Linked DNA regions of Homo sapiens: region 1 is linked to region 2. Evidence: fine-mapped expression QTL. A gene starts in region 2. The other region holds a variant in brackets. All regions are shown on one strand. Distances are from middle to middle.

The links.
Region 1: its variant is fine-mapped to the expression of TBCE in whole blood (TOPMed, PIP above 0.99).

What each region holds. Positions count from the first base shown.
Region 1 is chr1:235,400,402-235,403,312 of GRCh38, reverse strand. It overlaps TBCE (tubulin folding cofactor E), which reads right to left. Exons shown (of 17, transcript NM_003193.5): 3 at 1,726-1,810. Among named protein-coding and RNA genes, the nearest start is that of TBCE, 34 kb to the right of the region's middle. RefSeq lists an enhancer at 2,682-2,911. The variant C/A (reference allele first, on the strand shown) is at 1,704.
Region 2 is chr1:235,365,919-235,368,829 of GRCh38, reverse strand. It overlaps TBCE (tubulin folding cofactor E), which reads right to left and starts at 1,403. Exons shown (of 17, transcript NM_003193.5): 1 at 1,326-1,403. LOC124904559 (a long non-coding RNA gene) reads left to right here and starts at 1,410. Exons shown (of 2, transcript XR_007066957.1): 1 at 1,410-1,620; 2 at 2,207-2,477. RefSeq lists enhancers at 1,104-1,443, 983-1,696.

The DNA of each region.
Region 1 (2,911 bases), 34 kb before region 2:
ATTGCTTGAACCAGGGAGGTGGAGGTTGCAGTGAGCCAAGATCACGCCACTGCACTCCAGCCTTGGCCACAGAGTGAGACTACATCTCAAAAAAAAGAAAAAAGTCCTTTCACTGGAGGGTTTGTAAGGTCATGGTCCAGGTACCTAAGGAATCTGTGGGCCTGGCTAAAATATTTCTCCCTAACCATATAACCTGAACAGCTCTGAACAAATTCAGAGATGGCAAGTCTACAAGTAGAGTTGGCCTTTTAAGAACACCCTGACTTTCTAAAATTATGAAATAGTGGACCAGGAGATATGCTGTGTGGTTACCTAATTCTGACCTTCATTTTAAAGGTTAGTAAACTTGTCTTGTTCAGGACCATAAAGACTGTTAAAAGTGGGGCTGGTGCAGTGGCTCACATCTGTAATCCCAGCACTTTGAGAAGCCGAGGTGGGAGGATCGCTTGAGGCCAGGAGTTTGAGACCAGCCTGGGCAGCATAGAAAAACTTCATCTCTTTTTTATTTTTATTTTTTTAAATTAGCTGGGTGTGCTGGTGCACGCCTGTAGTCCCAGCTACTCAGGAGACTGAGGCGCGAAGATCACTTGAGCCCAGGAGTTCAGGGTGACAGTGAGTCATGATCATGCCACTGCATTCCAGTCTAGGCGAGACAATGTCTCAAAAAATAAACAAATAAACCAACCAAACAAACAAAAAAGACTGTTAAAAACAGGCTAGAGGCCCCCTGATTTCCAGGGCAGTATTGTGTTCACTGTACCATACTTAAGGAAAAACAGCTTACTAGGGAAAGATCGTTTTCAGAAATTGAAAACTAATAAAAATCAACAACAACAACAAAAATTTAGAAGACAGGCTCTGCCTGAAGGCTCCCCAGCACCCTTTTCAGGGCTTCATGCAGTTTTTCTGACATCAGGCGATCAAAAATAATAATAGAAATGCAATGTGACAGGCCGGGCGTGGTGGCTCACACCTGTAATCCCAGCATTTTGGGAGGCTGAGGCGGGCGGATCACAAGGTCAGGAGTTCGGGACCAGCCTGGCCAATATGGTGAAACCTCGTCTCCACTAAAAGTACAGAAATTAGCCAGGCGTGGTCGTGGGCACCTGTAATCCCAGCTACTCAGGAGGCTGAGGCAGGAGAATTGCTTGAACCTAGGAGGTGGAGGTTGCAGTGAGCTGAGATTGTGCCACTGCACTCCAGCTGGGCGACAGAGTGAGACTCCGTCTCAAAAAAAAAAAAAAAAAGACAAAGAAATGCAATGTGACATGTAACTCTTCCTATGATAAGAAATTTATTTAATGGTGGCTCAACATTCCACTATTCAGATGTTCTGTATTTTGTGTAATCAATTCCTTCTTACTGGAAATCTAGGCTGTTTCTCTTTTCTATTATTTACTTACTGGATTGTAAATTGGTAATGAGCCAGAAAGGTTTACATTCATCCAATTTAAAGGACTGTTAAAAAAAAAAAAAAAAAAAAAAAGGACGAAGAAAGCAACGCCATGCATAAGGTCAAGAGTCAGAATTTTTTTAAAAAAGGGAAAAATGCTACAAACAGCAGCAATTAAGCCACAAATAAAATAACTGCCTTTTTGGAATACAACAAATTCCATAATATAACTACTCCATGAGCCAAACATTTCTTCCTCTCCATCCCTCCTTATTCAAGTATTAAATATAATCTTGACTAAATGACCGTG[C/A]TGATTCATAATGAAAAGTTACCTGCATTTAAAATACACAGTCCCTTCGTGGCTCCCATCATGCTTTCCTCTCTCGGGATTGTCCCATTCTACTCCTAACCAGGGTCCTAGCAGAACAAGAAAAACCAAATGAGTAACAGATGATGATACAGGCAATGCTCCAGTTTTCTGCAAGCAAATACCAATTTGCAGCGGAAACCATATCACACAGATACCACTTGGGGAGGAGGGAATGGACAAGTTAGCCTTATACTCAGGACTTCAATCAGCAAATGCCATAGCATGTCTGGGTGAAAAAGCCAACAAAAACCACCACTCCAGAAAACAAGAATGGCTAAAATTTATTGAGCACACTAAACAAAACTGACCCTTGAGGACATTACACTAAGAGAAATAAGCCACCATAAAAGGACAAATACCATATTCCACTTATATGAGATACTTAGGGTAGTTACTACTAAACTGTACATTCAAAACTGGTTCAGATGGTAAATTTTATGTTACGTATATTTCACCACAATTTAAAATGTTAAATTGAAAAGTGGTTAAAATGGCAAACTTTATGTTATGTATGTGGCTACAATAAAAATTAAAAAAAAAAAAAAAGCCCAGGCACAGTGGCTTACGCCTGTAGTCCCAGCACTTTGCAAGGCCAAAGTGGGCGGATCACCTGAGGTCAGGAATTCGAGACTGGTCGAGACTGGCCTGACCAACGTGAAGAAACCCCATCTCTACTAAAAATACAAAATTAGCCAGGTGTGGTGACACATGACAGTAATCCCAGCTACTCGGGAGGCTGAGGCAGGAGAATCACTTGAACCCGGGAGGCGGAGGTTGCAGTGAGCCGAGATCATGCCACTGCACTCCAGCCTGGGCAACAAGAGCAAAATTCCGTCTCAAAAAAAAAAAAGGCTGGGCACAGTGGCTCACGCCTGTAACCCCAGCACTTTGAGAGGCAGAGGCAGGCGGATCACGAGGTCAGGAGTTCGAGACCATCCTGGCTAACACAGTGAAACGCCGTCTCTACTAAAAATACAAAAAATTAGCCAGGCACGGTGGCGAGCGCCTATAGCCCCAGCTACTCCGGAGGCTGAGACAGGAGAACGGCGTGAACCCGGAAGGCGGAGGTTGCAGTGAGCCGAGATCACGCCACTGCACCCCAGCCTAGGCGACAGGGCGAGACTCCATCTCAAAAAAAAAAGAGGAAA
Region 2 (2,911 bases):
CTTTGGGAGGCTGAAGCAGGTGGATCACCTGAAGTCAGGCCTTCAAAACCAGTCTGGCCAACATGGCGAAACCCCATCTCTACTACAAATACAAAAAAAAAAAAATTAGCTGGGCATGGTGGCACACACCTGTCATCCCAACTACTCGGGAGGCTGAGGTGGGAGATATGCTTGAACCTGGGAGGCGTGGTTGCAGTGAGCTGAGATTGGGCCACTGCACACCAGCCTTGGGCGACAGAGCAAGACTCCATATCAAAAAAAAAAAAAAAAAAAAAAAGCAGGCTGTCCACTTAGATTAAAAAAAAAACCCAGAGATATGCTGTTTACAACAGTATATAAAATATGAGCATACAGAAAAGTTAAAACTTAAGAATATGAAAAACGTTTGAAGCAAGTATCAAAACACAGCGGCCGTGGCTAAATTAATGCCAGAGAAAAGAAAAGTCTTCTCTCTTCATCTCTACCTCCACTAACTTTCTCTAACAGTTTGGCAATTTGTTAACCCCGTCTTCCTGCCAGGACTGCTTCTCTGAGGATAAGGCTGTCACACCATCATTTGGATCCACCCACAACTTAGAACAGTCCCCATTTGGTAGTAAACACCAAGTAAAAATAGTTACTTTAGGCCGGGCGCGGTGGCTCACGCCTGTAATCCCAGCAGTTTGGGAGGCCGAGGCGGGTGGATCATCTGAGATCAGGAGTTCGAGAGCAGCCTGGCCAACATGGAGAAACCCTGTCTCTACTAAAAATACAAAAATTAGCCGAGCGTGGTGGCACGCGCCTGTAATCCCAGCTACTCGGGAGGCTGAGGCAGCAGAATCGCTTGAACCCAGGAGGCGGAGGTTGCAGTAAGCCGAGATCAGAGATCCGCGCCACTGCAGTCCAGCCTGGGCGACAGAGCAAGACTGTCTCAAAAGAACAAACAGTTACTTTAAGTGCTCTCCACCTATTTAACGTTATTTCTCTGTCATCACCAATGTTAACTGATTCGGAAGGACGAGGCTGTTCCTCTAAGGTGACACCTTGTAAAAGTCGTTGGTCGCCTGTACCATTTTCACCTCTTCCAAAGTGACATGCCAATTCTCTGAGAGAAGCTTAAAATGCTAGAGATCACGTGCGGCTACTCCTAAATAAGGCCTTCCAGGAGGCGCAGGGTGGCCCCAACCCAGCCGGCTGGACCGCCTCCCAGCGCACGGAGCAGGCAACGCCCGGCTCTGGCAATCTGGGAAGATTCCAGGAAAGGAAGAAAAGGCCAAGAGCACTGCAGGGTGACGCACCGGCCAGGAATGCTCGTTCCGAAAGCTCCCCGAACCTCTGAAGCTCACCTGCCCGCGGAGACTCCAGGTGTTCCCAGCAGCAGCCCCTCCAGCCAACTGCCCAGCAGCGAAGCTTGAGGCTCTGGCCGGAAGTGCTGTAGGAAGTCCCGCCTCCACCGGAGTGAGGTACGGCTGCTGGAGCATAGACGAGAATGTCAGCGACAGTATTGGAGGCCAGAGGAGTGGTCAGCCCACCCAAGCCCCGCCTCTGGGCGGGGGCCCAAGCGATTTCCGAGTGCTGAAACCTGGGATGACAGAGCAGCCCAGGGAAAGCGCGTGTTCCAGTTTACTAGATACCACAGAAGTGAGTTACAAATCCTGTAAGAGGTTCAGTTCCATGCGTATTGAGAGTCTACCACGTAGGCAGCATGCGGTGGTCAAAGAGAAGAATATAGTGTTGATACCGCCAAAACTAAAAAAAAAAAAAAAATTACCTAGTTAAAGCATAAGGCAGAATGAAAGTAAATGCAGTGATAGAAAAAATAATAGAAAAAGCAACTATCCTAGACATGTTAATTTCTGTTGAAACCGCCTTTGCAAAATTTTGACAGTAAGAGAAATCTGACATGGTTTACTCCTATCTTGATTCTAGCCTCACAGACTGGCTGTCTTTGCTCATTCCTGGGCACAGGACAAACTAACTTTGGGAGAAATTTAGTTTATAGTTTAAATGATAATAACCCTTCCCCAAAACTGCCCTTTTAAAACTAAATGAAAGGCCACCAAGTTAGGAGAATGAGAGGGTCCTGAATTCTTCTAAGTTGTAATTGTAGTTAAATGATTACCACCCATTATTCCACAGGTCACAAATTCGCATCTTCCCCAATCATTCCTGCAGATAACATCACTGTTGTAGAACCTAAGATTGGCCTTTTGAGATGTCTTTTCAGGTTTTTGCATTTCTGACAAGTGGATGGCCCCACCCTGACTCATCAACCTGGGGATCCACGAACCAACTCAGTGCAAGAGGACAGCTTCTACTTCTTATGATTTCACCTCTGACCCAACCAGTCAGCACTCCCCATTCCCTGGCCCCGTACCTGTCAAACTATCTGAAAAACCCCCTAACCTCTGAGCCTTTGGTGAGATGGATTTGAGTAACAACTCTGTCTCCCACGTGGCATGGCCAGCCTCGCGTCAATTAAACTTTCTTTACTGCAATGCCATGGTTTCTGTCAATTAATTTTGTTTGTGCAGCAGGCAGAAAGAACCCATTGGTGGATACCACAGACTCCACAACAAGAGCAGTTTGGGTAGAGTGAGTGTTAGCATTCCAAAACCAGACTGAAGTGAGGTGAAGTGGAAAGGAAATTGAGGGAGCAAAGCCAAATGACTCTTCCAAGAAGTGACCTTCTAATTGTCATATTAAATGGACACAAACAGTCAGTATCCTGCTGGATGTCTCTACTGTTTTATACTTTGATAGTTCACTCCTTGAAACTAGAAACTAGATATTACAGTGATTGTTTTTTCTTTGGAAGAGGGGATTAAAAACCACATTGGAAATCTGATAAAAGCTATCTACCTACACACAAATTTTGCGTATGATTTCAAGGACTGATTAATCCTTTGAAGCCCATGAATAGGCCTCAAAG